2 separate regions of the Homo sapiens genome follow, and region 1 is linked to region 2. Evidence: fine-mapped expression QTL. A gene starts in region 2. The other region holds a variant in brackets. All regions are shown on one strand. Distances are from middle to middle.

Evidence for each region. PIP is the estimated chance that this variant, and not a neighbour inherited with it, causes the effect. A credible set is the group of variants that fine-mapping cannot tell apart.
Region 1: its variant is the best candidate, but not a certain one, in a credible set for the expression of BMP6 in monocytes (Quach 2016, PIP 0.88).

Annotation. Positions count from the first base shown.
Region 1 is chr6:7,700,920-7,709,252 of GRCh38, forward strand. No RefSeq gene overlaps it. Among named protein-coding and RNA genes, the nearest start is that of BMP6, 21 kb to the right of the region's middle. The variant C/CTT (reference allele first, on the strand shown) is at 4,068.
Region 2 is chr6:7,721,096-7,729,428 of GRCh38, forward strand. It overlaps BMP6 (bone morphogenetic protein 6), which reads left to right and starts at 5,004. Exons shown (of 7, transcript NM_001718.6): 1 at 5,004-6,524. The coding sequence starts at 5,861. RefSeq lists an enhancer at 2,180-2,239.

The sequences.
Region 1 (8,333 bases), 20 kb before region 2:
TTTAGTATGTCATTTGAATCACGTCATAACCTGCTTTGGAGAACAAATTGATCTAAAGAATTGACTGTTCCAAAGAATTTGGTTTATAAATCTTAAAATCATTTAGATCACAAAATGTCATGAGAGAAAACACTGAGAATATAGAGAAATGTTCAGAATATTAGAACAAATTGAAGTTGTACCTATTTCAAGAAAAATAAAATCTTTCCTATATCTTTATGTGTATAATGATTTTTAGATTATTTTTTAAATTGCCAAAATTCAATTTGGCAAAGCAGTGAACTTTGAAACACATGTTAATAAACTGAAGTTTTATTTACTGATTTTCTATAAACAAATAAACACTGAAATGTTATCTATAATAATGAATATTCTTGTGTTCCTGGAACACATTGAAATATTGTGTTGTAATAAAATAAAAATTACAGTGCTGTAGAGGTTAGCATTGGAGGTTAACGTATTATTTCGATGTATAAAATATAGTATTGAACAAAACAGACATAAATCAGCATATGGTGGGATTCCATTCATATGAAATGCAAAAATGGGTGTATTAGTCTGTTCTCACATGGCTATAAGGAGATACCTGAACCTGGATAATTTATAAAGAAAAAAGGTTTAATTGGCTCACAGTTTTGTAGGCTGTACAGGAAGCATGGCTGAGGAGGCCTCAGGAAACTTACAATCATGGTGGACGGTGAAGGGGAAGCAGGCTTATCTTATATGGACAGAGAAGGAGGAAGAGAGTGAAGTGGGAGGTGCTACCCACTTTTAAACCACCAGATCTTCTGAGAACTCACTGTCACGAGAAGAGCAAATTGGGAAATCTGCCCCTTTGATCCAGTCATCTCCCACGAGGCCCCTCCTCCAACACTGGGGATTTCAGCTCAACATGAGATTTGGGCAGGGATGAAAATCCAAACCCTAACAATGGGCAAAACCAATTTAGACTGTTACAAGTCAGGATGGTGGCTGTTCTTGGGATGGGTTCCCGGAATTGCTGGAACTGGGTGTGAGGGGCTGGTCATGTTTCTTGATCTAGGTTCTGGTTACATATGTGTGTTCAGTTTGTGAAAGTTTATCAAATTGTGCATTACTACCTATGTAGTTTTCTGAATATATATTATACTTCAATAAAATGTTTTAAAAATATGTATATCATATATCATTTCATCTTAGAAACAGAACACGTTAATAAGTGACTAGTTTTTGGAAGAAATTATTATAGCATAAGTTTTAAAAAAAGATGTTGGGGTGGGGTTTTTAACTTTCCATAATGCTGTAAAGTTTGCAACACTCACACAGTCATAGAACAAATAGAACTTTGACTTTGGTTTCAAAATTTATGCAGCTGCCTCCATATACTTTTGACAGTTTAATCACATATTTAACAGTTACAAAGCATGTTTTAGACATCAAGAGGATACATGGAGATGGTGGTAGGGCTTATATACCCATGGTCGTGTAAAACAGGAAAAATGTCAGCAAAAATAAACTATTATGCTGGTCTATTGAGTGACTTTGTCAGCTTTATAAAGGAATGAATATATAGTGTTGAAGGATAATCTTTCTGAATTAGTAAGTTATTTTTTAAAAAGCACATCTAAATCAATACCTTATTTTAGAAGAAATGTAATGTTAGGCATACTAACATGTATAAAACATAGTTTTTGAAAGAAACAGCTGATACCCTTTAAAGCTTACAGAAGACTAGAAATAATCTGACTTCCAAATGCTCCCCTCTTTGGTTGAAGCAGGAATATTCTATGAGGCATTTAAGGGAAGAGAAGCAGGGATTGTGAGTAAAAAGGGTGTGGACAATTTCCTCAAGTGAAACTTGCTTGGATAATCGGTGGCTGAACTAAAAAATTCACTTATTTAGACTTTTTACCAGTTTCATAACTAAGTTCTTCTCCAAGGGAGGCTGATGTATATTTATGTAACCATATTTTAGGGCTTAAAAAGTTCACAATTTAAAAAGACTCCTGCAAGGAAACAGGCCCTATTTTTTCTCCCAAATACCCTGAACTTTGGAGCTAGATAGCTTCTTAGTCTAACTGTTACAAAGGAATCCTTTTGTTTAAGATTTTTGTTCATTCGACTTTTGATATTTCTTGCTTTTGTCAACAAGTTAAATTCTATGTGAATTCATATCCCAGTATGATGTTCTCAATAAGCTGATCCAATTATTGCATCAAAAATGCTCCTTTTAAAAAATAGAGACCTGTCTCAATTTCTTCTCAATGGAGTGTGCAGTGTGTATTTCTAAATGAATTGAAAAAATAGATGTCAAGTAGAAGCAGGTGGCTGCTACATATTTTTGCAGTACTTAAGCAACTAATTGGCTTATTTCTTTTTAAGAAAAACTGATGAGGAAAACATCCTTTTCTAAAGAATTAAACAGCATCATCATCATATTATGTTTACTTAGCACTTTCCAGTTTGCAAAGCATGTTTCCTATTTTTGTCGTTATTCAATCATCACAATAATTCCATTAGTACTAGTTAGGTATGATTGTTACTCCTGTTTTACAAATGAGAAAACTCTGACTCAGAGGGCAGAGCCAGGGCTGTCTGCCTGTGTGTTTAGCTGGGTGACATCCTTTCCACGACATCATAGGGACCTGTGATCAGAAAAAGGAAGAATTTTTTTCTAACTTTTTTTTCTGAAAACAAGAATTTTTGCAAACGATATGATAGAATATAATTGAATTTTAAAATTAGACAAGGTTTTTCAAAATAATTATTCACTTTATTCAGCAAATTAATTTTATTTCAAAATAGTAATTTCTTTTATTCGACAGGTATTTGTTCAGTAACTCCTGGGAGCCACAAATAATTCTGGGTTCTGGGGTGAAAATGCGCGTGGTATAAGTTGTATGGAAGGTATCATCTGCCCTCTTGAAGGTTATGGAGTTCTCAGCAAGATGCCCATTAAACAATCACACACAAATGGATAAATGTTTAAATCGATGGTACATACTAAAACAAACTTTGGAGGGAGCTGTGAGAGTTGATTACCTGGGAACTCAATTTAGACAGGGAAGGCCTCTTGAAGGAAGTGGCATTTAAGCCTTGAAGTAGGATACAGCTGGGTGAAGGGTTGGGGAGGCGAGGGAAGAGCATTCTAGATGGAGCAAACAAAGTGTGCCAAGTGCCTGAGGCAGAGACATTGGGACCTCTAGGAGATGGAAGCAGCCCAGATGTTAAAAGAGCACAGCGGATGATGAATGATTTTGAGGCTGCTGAATGTGGGGAGGCTATTAACATTTTTTGAGGAGCGGTACAGTTTACATTTTAAGACCATCATGCCTGCTGCTGGAAAAAGGAGGGGCGAGGAGTTGGAAGAAGGGATAGGATAGACCTGGAAGAGGAGGACTCCCTCAAAACCATGCCATGAGAAGCTTCCAAAGCAGCTCTTGGACCTGACAACGGGGGGCCAGTGATGACCCCACAGGGTGTGGGGTGGAAGCTAGTTGGGGTGAGTTGACCTGGAGACACTACTGGCAGACCCACTTAATAGGAATTTAGTTGTCAAGGGAACGGGAAAGATGGAGAGGGTGTTGGACGGTCTGAATGGTTATGTTCCTCCCTAATTCATCTGTTGAAATCCTAACCCCCAAGGTGATAATATTAAAAGATGGGGTCTTTGGGAGGTGCTTAGGTTGCAAGAGAGAGCCCTTGAGTGGGACTAGTAACCTTATAAAACAGGCCCAAGGCAACTTGTTTGTCCCTTCCACCGTGTGTGCTGGCCGTGAGAAGATGGCGGTCTACGAACCAGGAAGCAGGTCCTCGCCAGACACCGAGGCGTCCGCTGGTGCCCTGATCTTAGACCTCCTACCCTTCAGAACTGTGAGTTTCTGTTGTTTAGAAACCACCCAAGTCTAGGATATTTTGTTTTTTATTTGTTTTTTTGAGACGGAGTTTCGCTTTTGTTGCCCAGGCTGGATTGCAGTGGCACGATCTCGGCTCACTGCAACCTCTGCCCCTTGGGTTCAAGCAATTCTCCTGCCTCAACCTCCCTAGTAGCTGGGATTACAGGTGCCCGCCACCACGCCTAGCTAATT[C/CTT]TTTTTTTTTTTTTTTTTGTATTTTTAGTAGAGACGGGGTTTCACCATGTTGGCCAGGCTGGTCTCGAACTCCTGAGCTCAGGAGATCCACCCACCTCAGCCTCCCAAAGTGCTGGGATTATAGGCGTGGGCTACTGCACCCAGCTCTAGGATATTTTTGTTATAGCAGCCTGAACAGACTAAAGACAGGGTGTACATAGGGCAGGGAATTGAAGGAAAGTGGTGGTGGTGGTGTTTTCTCGTTTTTTTGTTTTGTTTTGTTTTGTTTTTTTGGGATGAGATCTTGCTCTGTTGCTCAGACTGGAGTGCAGTGGCACGATCATGGCTCACTGCAGCCTCGACCTCCAGGACTCAAGTGATTCTCCCACCTCAGCCTCCCGAGTAGCTGGGACCACAGGTGTGTGCCACCACACCTGGCTAAGTTTTTGGTTTTATTTATTTTTTGTAGAGACAGGGTCTCCCTCTGTTGCCCAGCCTGGCTTTAAACTCCTGGGCTTAAGCCATCCTCCTACCTCAGGCTCCTAAAGTGCTGGGATTACAGGCCTGAGCCACCATGCCTGGCCTGAAGGGACGATCTTGAAAGTGGAGCACGCTGAAGTATCTGGGCACAATAATGAAAGTCATTCATCAGTGAAGGAGAGATTGATGATGGTGGCAGTGGTGGTGTGTGAGAAAAAGAATCTCAGACAGACATACACTGTCAGCTAATCAAAGAAGGAAAGCCCTTGGGCAGTCACAAGAAGATGTGGCCAGAATGCATGCAGAGCATTTTACACTGTTTTACGCTGCTCCTGGGATAAGAGAGACACTTCCATTGTGGTAACAAGAAGGAAAGGCGGAGAAGATGGGTTTACAGATTTGGTTTGGGAAGATGAAGACATTTCATTCCAATGGTTGTTTTTTTTCCCCTGCCTTTAGGAAGCATGAAGTGGGGTCAGAGTGAAGGGCAAGAGGAGAGCTGGGGTTGGGCAGACTGAGGCTGTCTGGATCGATGATATGGCCTTAGTGTGGAGATGAAGAGAGAGCTTGCTAGGCAGTGTCCTTGGAAATGGGTGAAGATGATCTTGACACCAGTCCCCGTACTGGGTATTTTTCCTCAGCAGCATTTAGCCCTGCAGTGTATGGGGTTCATCTAGTTTTGGGAGACTATTGGAAGAGTTATTGGTTGATTCAGATGATTAATAATTGAATTGGGCATGCTTTCTGAAATGCTTACGATTTCTATCAAAATATTCGATGTGAATATGATGCCACAAGGGGAACCCCTGGAATCCATGGCACTTCCACAGCACTGACATGGCCTTCCTGGCTTCTGTATTTCTTTTATTGGTAGCAAAGGTAGAGACGGAGACAAAGAACTGGAATTTAGACGTTGGAGATTTAGTTTCTGGCTGCTAAATTCCACTGCAGTGTTACATAGTTCAGAAGGCTGGTAAGTAAAGTACAGTGAGTCCCATGACCAGTTTAGAAGTGTGCCTCTCTGGAACTCACCGTCATCTCAGAGCACACAGCTGCAGGAAGCTCACAGAGTCACTCTCAGGTCACTTCTCTGAGTTAAAGTGGAACCACCTGCCCACCCCTTGCCCACACACACCTTCCTTCCTTGACCCTGCACCCCTCCGGCTTTCTTATCTCTTTCTTTCCTTCACAGCAGGCCTTCTACTTCTTCTGCCTCTCTCTTTCTTCCCTTTCCGTGAACTCTTCGGCGCCTTAAATGCCAGCTTCTACCTCTCTGCAGCTGCACCCCCCGGGCTCTCAAATGACCTTCTGGTGGCTACAGCCGGTGGAAACTCTCCAACTGCCATCTTACTTGATTTGTCCTGTATTATTTCCACTGCGCTCTCTCCTGCTTGGTGAATTCTATGGGCCTATTCTCTCCTTAGTTTCCCACCTATCTCAATGGCAAATTCTTCTTAGTCTCTTTTGTGGGTTCCTCTTCCTCCTCTCACTCCTAAAACATCATAGGTCCCTCGAAACTCTGTCCTGAGTCAAATTCATGTCTCCAGCCAGGCTGACCCTGAGGGCTATTCCTGTCTAACTAGGCAGCTCCATGTGTGTGTGTTCTATAAAGGCCTCAAACTTCATATGTTCAAAGTTGACCTCATCATCTTCTGCTGAACTCTGTTTTTGCAAATGTCACTGCTGTTCACCAGGTTCCTCAAGTCAGAAACCAATGGATCATTGTCAATTTCTCCTTCTCTATTTTCCTGTACATCTAATTAATCACAAAGCCTCATCCAGTGTGTATCTTAAACACCCCTCACCTCTGTTTGCTTCCCACAACACAACTGCCATCACTCTAGTACAGGGGCTTCTCCCCTCTCATCTGAAACATTAGTAACACCCTTCTTTCCTTCCCTCCTGTTTCTAGATTCATCTCCATAATCTACCCGCCACAATGTCAATAGAATCACCTTTCTAGCATGCAGATTGTCTTGTCACCTCTTTGCAAGAAATTCTTCAGTGACTCTGTCTCACCTATGGCACATAATTTTTACCCTTTTAGAAGGACACAGAGGTGTCTTTACAACCAGGCCTACACTTGGGACCCAGGTCTTGGAGCCCTTGCCAATGAAGCATTTTGATCTACTTCTCAATAACCATGATCTTGCATGCCTCTTGGTCTCTGCATATGCCGTTCCCATCCCCTGGAATATCCTCCCATGCTTGTTTGTCACACTTGGTGAAACATTTGCCATTTTCCTGGCTCGGTACCTGGAGGTCCAAAATGGAGGCTAGAGAGACAATAAGTACCAGAAACTGCCCACATTTAGAGTCAGACACTCCATCAAGGATTACTAAAGAGTCTGCACAATTTCCTTACAACCCTCAGCCATGACTCTTATCCTTCCCTGTGTTCCCAAGGAGGGTAGAGAGAGGGAATCACTGGAGTCAGTTGTCACTGGCCTGGTGGGGGAATGCATGGCTTTTCCACTTCCTCACCATGGGGTAGGGAGGGCTGTTGCCCTTAAAGCCGAGTGTGTGTGGTGAGCAGCAAGAGAATCACTTGCAGAGATGAATCACAAGAAGGGAAGGCCGGTGTCACGCTCCCTGACTGCATGCCCATGAAGCTGGAAACCTATTGGCCCACTCTTGTGCTGCCAAAGAGCAGAGGGGAGCCTGGGGAAGGGATTCCTGGGGGAGCCTGACATGTGTCGTGGGAGTTTAGGAGTACACATGTATGTATGTAGAAATGGATGCCTCCTCTGCCTGGAACTCTAAGGCATGAGTCTTTCTGGAATAGCCCTTGCCAGGAAAGGGAGTAAGAAACACACAGTTTAGTGTGTTTTATCAAGCTTGCCCAACCCATGGGCCACATGCGGCCCAGGACAGGTTTGCCTGCAGCCCAACACAAATTCATAAACTCTCTTAAAACATTATAAGATTTGTTTATGAATTTGTTTAAACTTATCATCTATCGTTAGTGTCGTTAGTGTTAGTATATCTTTTTTTTTTTTTTGGTGAGACAGAGTCTCACTCTGTTGCCCAGGCTGGAGTGCAGTGGCGCTATCTCGGCTCACTGCAAGCTCCGCCTCCTGGGTTCACGCCATTCTCCTGCCTCAGCCTCCGAGTAGCTGGGACTACAGGCGCCAGCCACCATGCCCGGCTAATTTCATGTATTTTTAGTAGAGACGGGGTTTCACCGTGTTAGCCAGGATGGCCTCGATCTCCTGACCTCGTGATCTGCCCGCCTTGGCCTCCCAAAGTGCTGGAATTACAGGCGTGAGCCACTGCGCCCAGCCCAGTGTTAGTATATCTTATGTGTGGCCCAAGACAATTTCTTCCAGTGTGGCCCAGGGAAGCCAAAAGATTGGACACCCCTGCTTTAAATGAAGAGATCTCATTTCAGTTCTCTTTGGCCTTCGGGGTACGTGGAAAATGACTTCAGAGACTTCTATGGGTATTGAGCACAGAAGTTAGGTGAGAAACAGAAAGGAGAGTAATTAGGAGACATCTGAGGCAAAAACAGGACCAACTTTGAGAGGAGATTGAGAGTATGGGCCACTGTCAGAACCAGACACATGGCTGCCCCTTTCTGAAGGGGTCATCAAGGATGGGGAAGGCAGAGGTGAGCCTGAACTCGCCCCCTAAAACCACACATGCTGCGTTTGTAGAGACCACCATATCAGTAGAGGGCACCAGCATCAGATTGAACCAGAGTGGACCAGAGATGCATCCCATCACCATCACTAGTGGGACAACAGATGCTCAGCATAGCCTCAGGTTTCCTGTATGTTTCCTCCAGTCTTCATCCTTGCCAGAGGC
Region 2 (8,333 bases):
GTTATTTTGTTTACTATCCATTTCCCCATCTAGAATCTATGTGGACAGGGATTTCTGTTTGGTATCCCAAAACCTAGACCACTGCCTGGCACATAGGCATGGAAAGATGTGTTGAATGAATGAATGAAGACTGGGTAATTAGCCTTTCTCTTCTTTTTAAAAAGCTGTCAGTGACTTTCATTTTAACCTGATTTTACCACCAGTGTGCTTTTCCCTGGCTCCACATGCCACTGGTTACGGCTTTGCTAGTTAAGGGGATTACTAACAGGATAATGTCATATTTTTATGTTACCTCCTAGTGACACAGAGACACATCCTGGACAGGAGGTACAGAGTGGGGTCACAAAATGGACTGAAGCTCAGAGGCCAGCACAGGCCAGGGAGCCTCATGCACCCCAGTTAACTAAGTGTCCAATCATTTCTTGGAATAAAACTCTTCAGGGATAGTAAAACTAGTCATGGAAATGTGTTAAGCATTGTTTTGCTCAGAAAAAAAATTGAAGACTTAGTCTGCACATGTTAATTACTCAATGAAAATTTCACAAACGATTTAATCATCTGGATGTCTCGAAATATTCTGTTGCTTAATATTATGTAGACAGCCTAAATCCTAGGGTCATAGAGATCTGAGCTTGTGTGAAAAGCTTGAAACACGTACAAGTAACAGATTTGCTATTTGGGTTATGGTGTGGAAAAAAATCTCTGGAAACAGATTTATGTATTAGTTTTTCACTTTGCCACCAGATGTCCTTCATGAGTAGGAAAATATGATGACTTGAATGATATTTTGAAGTGTGAATGCCCAGCATTTTTGAGTAGACAGTGAAAGCGGAGTGTGACTGAATGTAAATGTTACCACAGACTTTTGGATGAGACAGGTCTTTTGAAGGCTGTCTTACAGGTGTAGCTTTCAGAAGCAATACTTATTTCACTTGCAAATTTTCATTTCTCATACTTTACAACCATTTATCTATTTTCTTTTCACTCAACTCTAAATCGATATTTTAAAAATTTGATCGAATTATTATACTTTGAAATTAACATTAAGAAGTACTCAGGTCCTTATGCTAATAGTAAAGATAAAAAGTTGGTCTTTGGAGTGGAACGTCTCAATAATTCAAGGAGGCTAGACCTCAGTCTTTTAAACATGACAGCTACACAGTTTACAAGATTTTTTTTTTTTTTTTTTGAGACAGGGTCTTGCTGTCACCCAGGCTGGAGTGCAGTGGTGTGATCTGGTGATCTGGGCTCACTGTAACCTCCACCTCCCTGGCTCAAGCGATCCTCCCACCTCAACCTCCTGAGGAGCTGGAACTACAGGCGTGCACCACCACACCCGGCTAATTTTTGTATTTTTTTTTTTTTTTTTTTTTTGTAGAAACAAGGTCTTACTAGGTTGCCCAGCCTGATCTCGAGCTCCTGGGCTCAAGTGATCTGCCTGCCTCAGCCTCTCAAAGTGTTGCTATTACATACCTGGCCAAGATATTTTTATTAAGTTAATTCTAAAAGCAGCAACTTACATCTTCAGGAAATGCAGTTGAAAGGGACCAATGTAAAATTTAATATAAAATCCAAGACTGAAGTTGCAGTTTATTGCTAATAAGGTAATATAGAATATGTGTTTAATATGTCAAATTAATAAACAGCATGTTTACAAAATAGAAGCTATTTGGTCAAGTGTGTTATAAATGTATAACAGAAACCCTCAGAATATATAAGGAACAAGGACAACTACAGGTTTAAAGGATTTGTTGCGTGAATTACATGGTGCCTTAATAAACACTTGGAGACAGAATTCCCGTCCTATTCCCACTATCACTGGAAGTATGGGATGAACCTGTGCTTTCTGGTGAGGGCTCCTCATTTCTTCATTAAGTGGGGCAGGGAGATGGGACAGGCAACGTATTGCCAGAAAACTGAAGGCCATCTGCATGAAATGTCAGCCAAGCAACCAGATGTTTGATTGGATTGGCTCCCACATCCGGCTTCTTGATCGAATTCCTCCTCTTTCCACCCAGATGTTTTAGAAACACAGAGAACTTCATGAAGCTTGTTCCGGGCCCGCAGAGGAAGGGGCGGTAATATTTTGGTGTCCTGCAGGGGGCGAAGTTACCTCTAATTTTATCAAGTCGGTTCATACATTCCAGCGGACTTCAAAGCCCAGATCTGCTCCTGTCCCTCCAACTCCACCCACCCCATGCCTCCTCCTCTTGAATCACATGTGGACGTTGTCTAGCTCCCTGTCCTGAGGCTTCCAGGGGAGCACTCGGGCTGTCTAATGGGGAAGGGTCCCAGAAGCAGGGAGTAGACAAGGTGGGGGTTAGGGGATTTTTATCCACCTAGAGGTCCAACTGGCTTGGAGAAAGAGTAGTCCCAATTTCAAGGTTATTAAAATCCTAGAACTGTATCTCTTCCTGTCCCCTTTGTCCCAATGGATACAAGGGCTTGCCTGCATGTGTCCCGCAAACATGATGTGCACATGTTGGGAGCCATAGTGGACAGAAGAGGAGCACATCCTCAGTTGGATGTCACTGTCCTTATGATCATTGTAATGTCTCACTGCACAGTTTTTTTAGGAGCTTCTTCTGGCTCTTAAGGGAGATGTGCGTTCTCATGTTCATCACCTGGAGGTACTCTCGACACCTCCTCATTCTAGCCCCATTCGACAGAAACTGAGAATCCATCTTGGTGGAGTGAGGAGCCTGCAACAGACCTGAATCAGAGTTGCTGCTCAGATGTTTAGTTGATAGTCACTTTAGACTCATGTCACATGAACCCATCTACTTCTTAGTGTCTAAGGAAAGGGAGAGATGGCGTGCGTGTGTGTGCATGTGTGTGTGTGTCTTCTGCACTAGGTCCACCCCATAGATGCATACACAAGTTGAGTATCCCTTATCCAAAGTGCTTGGGACCAGAAGTATTTCAAATTTCAGATTTTTAGATTTTGGAATATTTGCATATACATAATGAGATACCTTAGGGATGGGATCCAAGTCTAAACATGAAATTCATTTATGTTTCGTATATATCTCATATACATAGTCTGAAGGTAATTTAATACAATATTTCAAATGATTTTGTGGATGAAAATTTTGACTGTGTTTTGACCATGTCCCATCCTATGAGGTCAGGTGTGGAATTTTCCATCTGAGGCATCATGTCAGCTCTCAGAAATCTTTAGATTTTGGAGCATTTTGGATGTCAGATTTTTGGGTTAGGGATGCTCAACCTCTACAATAGGTGGGTCACCCCTCGATTTTGTGTTTTAAATGACATAGCCCCACCAAGGTGCCCTCATCCATGCTTGAAATGTTGAGTTTCCTGTGTCTTCCCCACTGCCCTCGTAGGTAGAAAGTCTTTTACTCTGCCTGCATCTCACCAGAAGTCTTATGAGGAAGGTGCAACTAGGTTTAAAAAAGGAGGCTCTTGGCAGGAAGCCTAGGTGTATTTGCTGGAATTTCAGATCTTCTGAGCAGAGCTCTTGGCTGCTGTGGGGCACTGCAGTGAATTTATGTCCCTAACATGTTCCCTACAGAAAAAAGAAGTGACAGGGCTCTTGAATTCTGAGGGTCCGGGCATCCCAGACAAAGTATCGTATTATCTTTTCGGATGGAAGAAATCCCTGTAGAGATGGTTAAAGACTGGCATTCACATAAGTTTTGTGCCCTGAAATTCATAGCTATCAGATATTTGTAGAAATAAAGACTCTTCTAAATGACCACTTGTGTCTGGGCCAAGGCAGAACTAGAAAGAAGGACTCAGTGGGTAGTTGGAGTCAGTGGTGGTCTCTATTTACCCATGAGAAATAGATTCTTGGAAATAGGATAGGAATGCTTATAAGATTTGGACCAACAGAAAGCCTATGATCTCATAAATTCATGAATCCCACAGTCTATAATCTATTTGACTTCACTCTCAAATGCCTAGGACCATTTGGACTAAGGCTGGCAAGTCAGAAAATTGCAGTTTTTATTTTCAACTCCACACAATTTTCACCAAGTAAAAAACCTTCATGTTTTACGTGAATTTGCTTCTACGATCCATAGATGACTGGATGTTCTCGGGCGGGGTAAAGGCAAATGAATTTGTGTCCTCATTGGCAAATGGTGTTGGTGGTGGTGTTATCTTGTCTAAAATCCACAGGAACCTGTGTTTCAGGACCCTGTCTATTGTCCTGACCATTCAGAATGCATGCCAAGCCCCTGCTCTTCCTGGAGTTATCTTTATCACCTCTCCTCAAGTTTTATCTTGCACCATATAAGTCACATTGTATTTCAATATTAAAATGCAACATTAATAGATAAGCTGGAGAATCAAGACATTTCCAAGAAGACAGGGGACGCCTTTTCTAATATATCGTCTGATTACACCCTCTTTCTTTTGGGTGCTAGCTTAAGAAGCCAAACCAAAGCACAAATGAACAGAGAAGTCAACACATCCGACCCCAAACCCTCAGGACGCTGGCTTGGGTTACATGTGGCCCTCTCTGTGGTCAGTTTGTGAGTAGCCTCCCCGGAGGGTGTGTCCCAACTTCCAGCAGCTGCCGTGGAAAGCCACGTGTCCGCTAAACGCCTACATTACATCAATAAGAGAAACTAAGGAAGGGATGGAAAAGCTATCATTTTTCTTTTCTTCCTCAGTTCTGGCAGTATAGTGATTTAATCGCTGTTATTATTTTTATTTAGTTAAAGCATCAACTTAGGCCTTTTAAATGATGGTAAAAGAGAAAGCTTCAGATCGGGGTATTGGTCAGATCATTCTTACTAGCGATGACCTCTTCGCCTTTGGCACCTCGCGGCTCTTCGCATGCCTCCAAGAATTCCCGGGTCTTGAAACCTACGCGCGGCGGAGGCGACGCCTCTCGGGAGAGGGAGGGTGAAAGAAGGGGCGGGGCTATTTAAATAGCCCGCGAGCTTCGCGTCCCCATTGGCTGCCAGCCTGTCGGTTACCGCGGGGCGGGGAGTCCCGGGGCTGGAGTGAGGTACCTGAGCCGGGCGCGCAGCAGAAAGCCCACGTTGGCCGCTGCGGGGAGCGCGGCGTGGAGAGGCGGGAGACCGAATTCCGGCGCCGCCGCCGCGGCCGCTGCTCGGTGCACTAGCCCCCTTCCTTCCCATCCTTTCTGCGAGCGGGTTTGCTGGGCAGCCGGGCGACCGCCGAACGGAAAGCAAGATCCTCGCCGCCTCCGCTTGAGGAGGCGTGCGGCGCGCGGAGATTTTGAGTGGGAGCGACGGTGCCCGAGAGCTCAGGGGCGCGGAGTTCGTGAGCGAGAAGGAAGTTAAACCTCGCGGAATAGACTGGCATTTCGGGACGCCTTGTCGCCGCAGCCTGGGCCCTGCAACGGGGTAAACTTCATGGTGGCCCTGCGATCTGGGGAGGGGCGTGCGCCACGGTGATGCCGGGCATCTCCCGCAGCTCGTGAGCGGCCCCGCTCCCCGCTGCCCCGGGTCCCACTCAGTCGCCAGGGAGAGCGCGGGGCAGCGCACGTGTGCGGCCAGCGAGGCCCAGAGTGACCGCGCCGCGACTCGCAGGAGCCAGGGCGCAGGCTGCAGTGCAGCCCGGACTCAGACGCACCTGGCCTGGACCGCGCGCCTCTAGAGACCTGCGCGAGGCTGTGAGGCTCCCCTTCCTCCCCTCCAAGCGGTTCTCCTGGTGATCGCCCCTTCGCCACCTCTCTAGCCTGGGCAACTGGGGGCGCCCCGGACGACCATGAGAGATAAGGACTGAGGGCCAGGAAGGGGAAGCGAGCCCGCCGAGAGGTGGCGGGGACTGCTCACGCCAAGGGCCACAGCGGCCGCGCTCCGGCCTCGCTCCGCCGCTCCACGCCTCGCGGGATCCGCGGGGGCAGCCCGGCCGGGCGGGGATGCCGGGGCTGGGGCGGAGGGCGCAGTGGCTGTGCTGGTGGTGGGGGCTGCTGTGCAGCTGCTGCGGGCCCCCGCCGCTGCGGCCGCCCTTGCCCGCTGCCGCGGCCGCCGCCGCCGGGGGGCAGCTGCTGGGGGACGGCGGGAGCCCCGGCCGCACGGAGCAGCCGCCGCCGTCGCCGCAGTCCTCCTCGGGCTTCCTGTACCGGCGGCTCAAGACGCAGGAGAAGCGGGAGATGCAGAAGGAGATCTTGTCGGTGCTGGGGCTCCCGCACCGGCCCCGGCCCCTGCACGGCCTCCAACAGCCGCAGCCCCCGGCGCTCCGGCAGCAGGAGGAGCAGCAGCAGCAGCAGCAGCTGCCTCGCGGAGAGCCCCCTCCCGGGCGACTGAAGTCCGCGCCCCTCTTCATGCTGGATCTGTACAACGCCCTGTCCGCCGACAACGACGAGGACGGGGCGTCGGAGGGGGAGAGGCAGCAGTCCTGGCCCCACGAAGCAGCCAGCTCGTCCCAGCGTCGGCAGCCGCCCCCGGGCGCCGCGCACCCGCTCAACCGCAAGAGCCTTCTGGCCCCCGGATCTGGCAGCGGCGGCGCGTCCCCACTGACCAGCGCGCAGGACAGCGCCTTCCTCAACGACGCGGACATGGTCATGAGCTTTGTGAACCTGGGTAAGGATTTGGGGTAACGTAATGACGAGAACATTTCCCCCTTTTCAGTGTCCCGGGCCCAGGGGATGGAGTGAGGGGGTGGAGGAGCTCCCGGCGCGCGGGTCCCGCCTGGTGCGCCAGAGAACGCGGGGACAGGCAGGCTGTGCTCCCGCCACCTGCGCGGCGGTGGGCGGCACATGCGCTCCCCCGCGCCGCGGGCAGGGCTGCGCGCCGAGGCCCCCAGAGGCGGCTGGCCGGCCGGGCCGCGGGGCTCCGGGAGCGCTGTCCCCAGCGGGCGTGTATTTGCGGACTCCCTGAGCACGTTCCGCGCTTTTTTTCACTTCTGCCCAGCTCTGGCCAGGTTAACTCAACTGCAGCAGGAGAGTCCAGCCCGAGTGTGGCCATCCTGGGAAGAGGGCTCTTCAGTACGATTTTCCCCTCTAAACTGCCGCCTTTTGCCCCCTAACTTGGAGTGCAGTTTTCCCACCGAGACTTTTAGGGAATCCGACAGCGGCTGGGAACTTTGAAAACTTGGCATGAGTATGTTTAGAGGTATCCACGGCACTAGGGGAGGTTGCAGAGGGAAGTCCCAAAAGGACCGCGGAAGGCGCTCGGATCCCGGCCGGGCGGGGCTCGCTTCTGTTTGGGGCGGGATGAAAGCTCAACTGGGGTAATCCATCCTGTGCCCCGGCTCACATGCCCTTGGCCATTGTCCCCAAAGGCTGAACCTTTGATCAATGCAGCCCAAGCTGCACGGGCAGAGAAAGGGTGCGGGGTAGGGGCCGGGGTTGGGCGCTGAGCTCCTCTGAACCGGTTGCCAGGCAACAGAATGGAAATTCACGGGCGGCTAAATGGAGCTCCGCCACAAATGTTCTGTGGCAAACCCGGACCCAGTCACATCGCCCTTTCTCCCCCCTCCCACCCCACTGAGTTTTCTCATCTGTAAATGAGAAGGGTGCAGAGAAGACTCTTTTCTTCGGAGTCAGTGCCTCCGGTTTGCACTGCTTTTCATTCATAAGCTGACTTAGTTTAGCGCAGACATAGGATGGAGGGACGCGCTGTCAGCGGACAGATCATGGGTGCACTGGCTACGCCCGGGATGGTTGCAGCTGCGCGGCGGGGTGGGGCTTCACGGGCCTCCTTCCCATGTGAGACGGTGGTTGTGCCCAGGCCCTGAAGTGGGTGAGCAGACACTCGCCAAAGGAGCACACGGGTCTCCCAGCCACGTCAAAGACGCTCATCTTTTAACGGCATTACTTACTGGAATGATTCCCGCGTAGACTATCTGGGTGATTTCTTTACCAGCCTATCTATGATTCCCAACTCCACTGAGCTTTGAGGGAGAGAACATGGGGGGTAAGAGCCAAGGGAGGGTGTGGAGGCAGGGCGATTGGCATCCAAGTGGTGCAGAAATCCTCCTGGGAAATTCGTGAAACAGAATCTCACAGGAGTCCAGGCTCAGGGCCTGCCAATCTGGCTGCTTGCACTGCCCGGGGTTCTGATTGGACAAGAATTTTCACAATTTATTGGAACCAAATCCAAGGTTGAGCCACCTCCAGGAAGCATTCTAAGGAAATTCTCATGCCAGTCAATAAAATTTGTAGTGGGTGGGGGCCAGGGTGGCAGAGGACCAGCGCTGTTCCTTATTCTAACTTTTCTGCTGCTTCTGACTTAGTAAATTCCTCCCCTTGCTCTCTTCCTCTCCTCTCCTTCCACCCTCACCCCCCGCCCCCACCCCGCCTCCAGGTTTCCTGGCAGCTCTGGGGAAATGTTTTATTGCCTCTTGGGGGTAGTCCTAACCTGGACAAAGGGGAGGAAGACTGGCGCTCC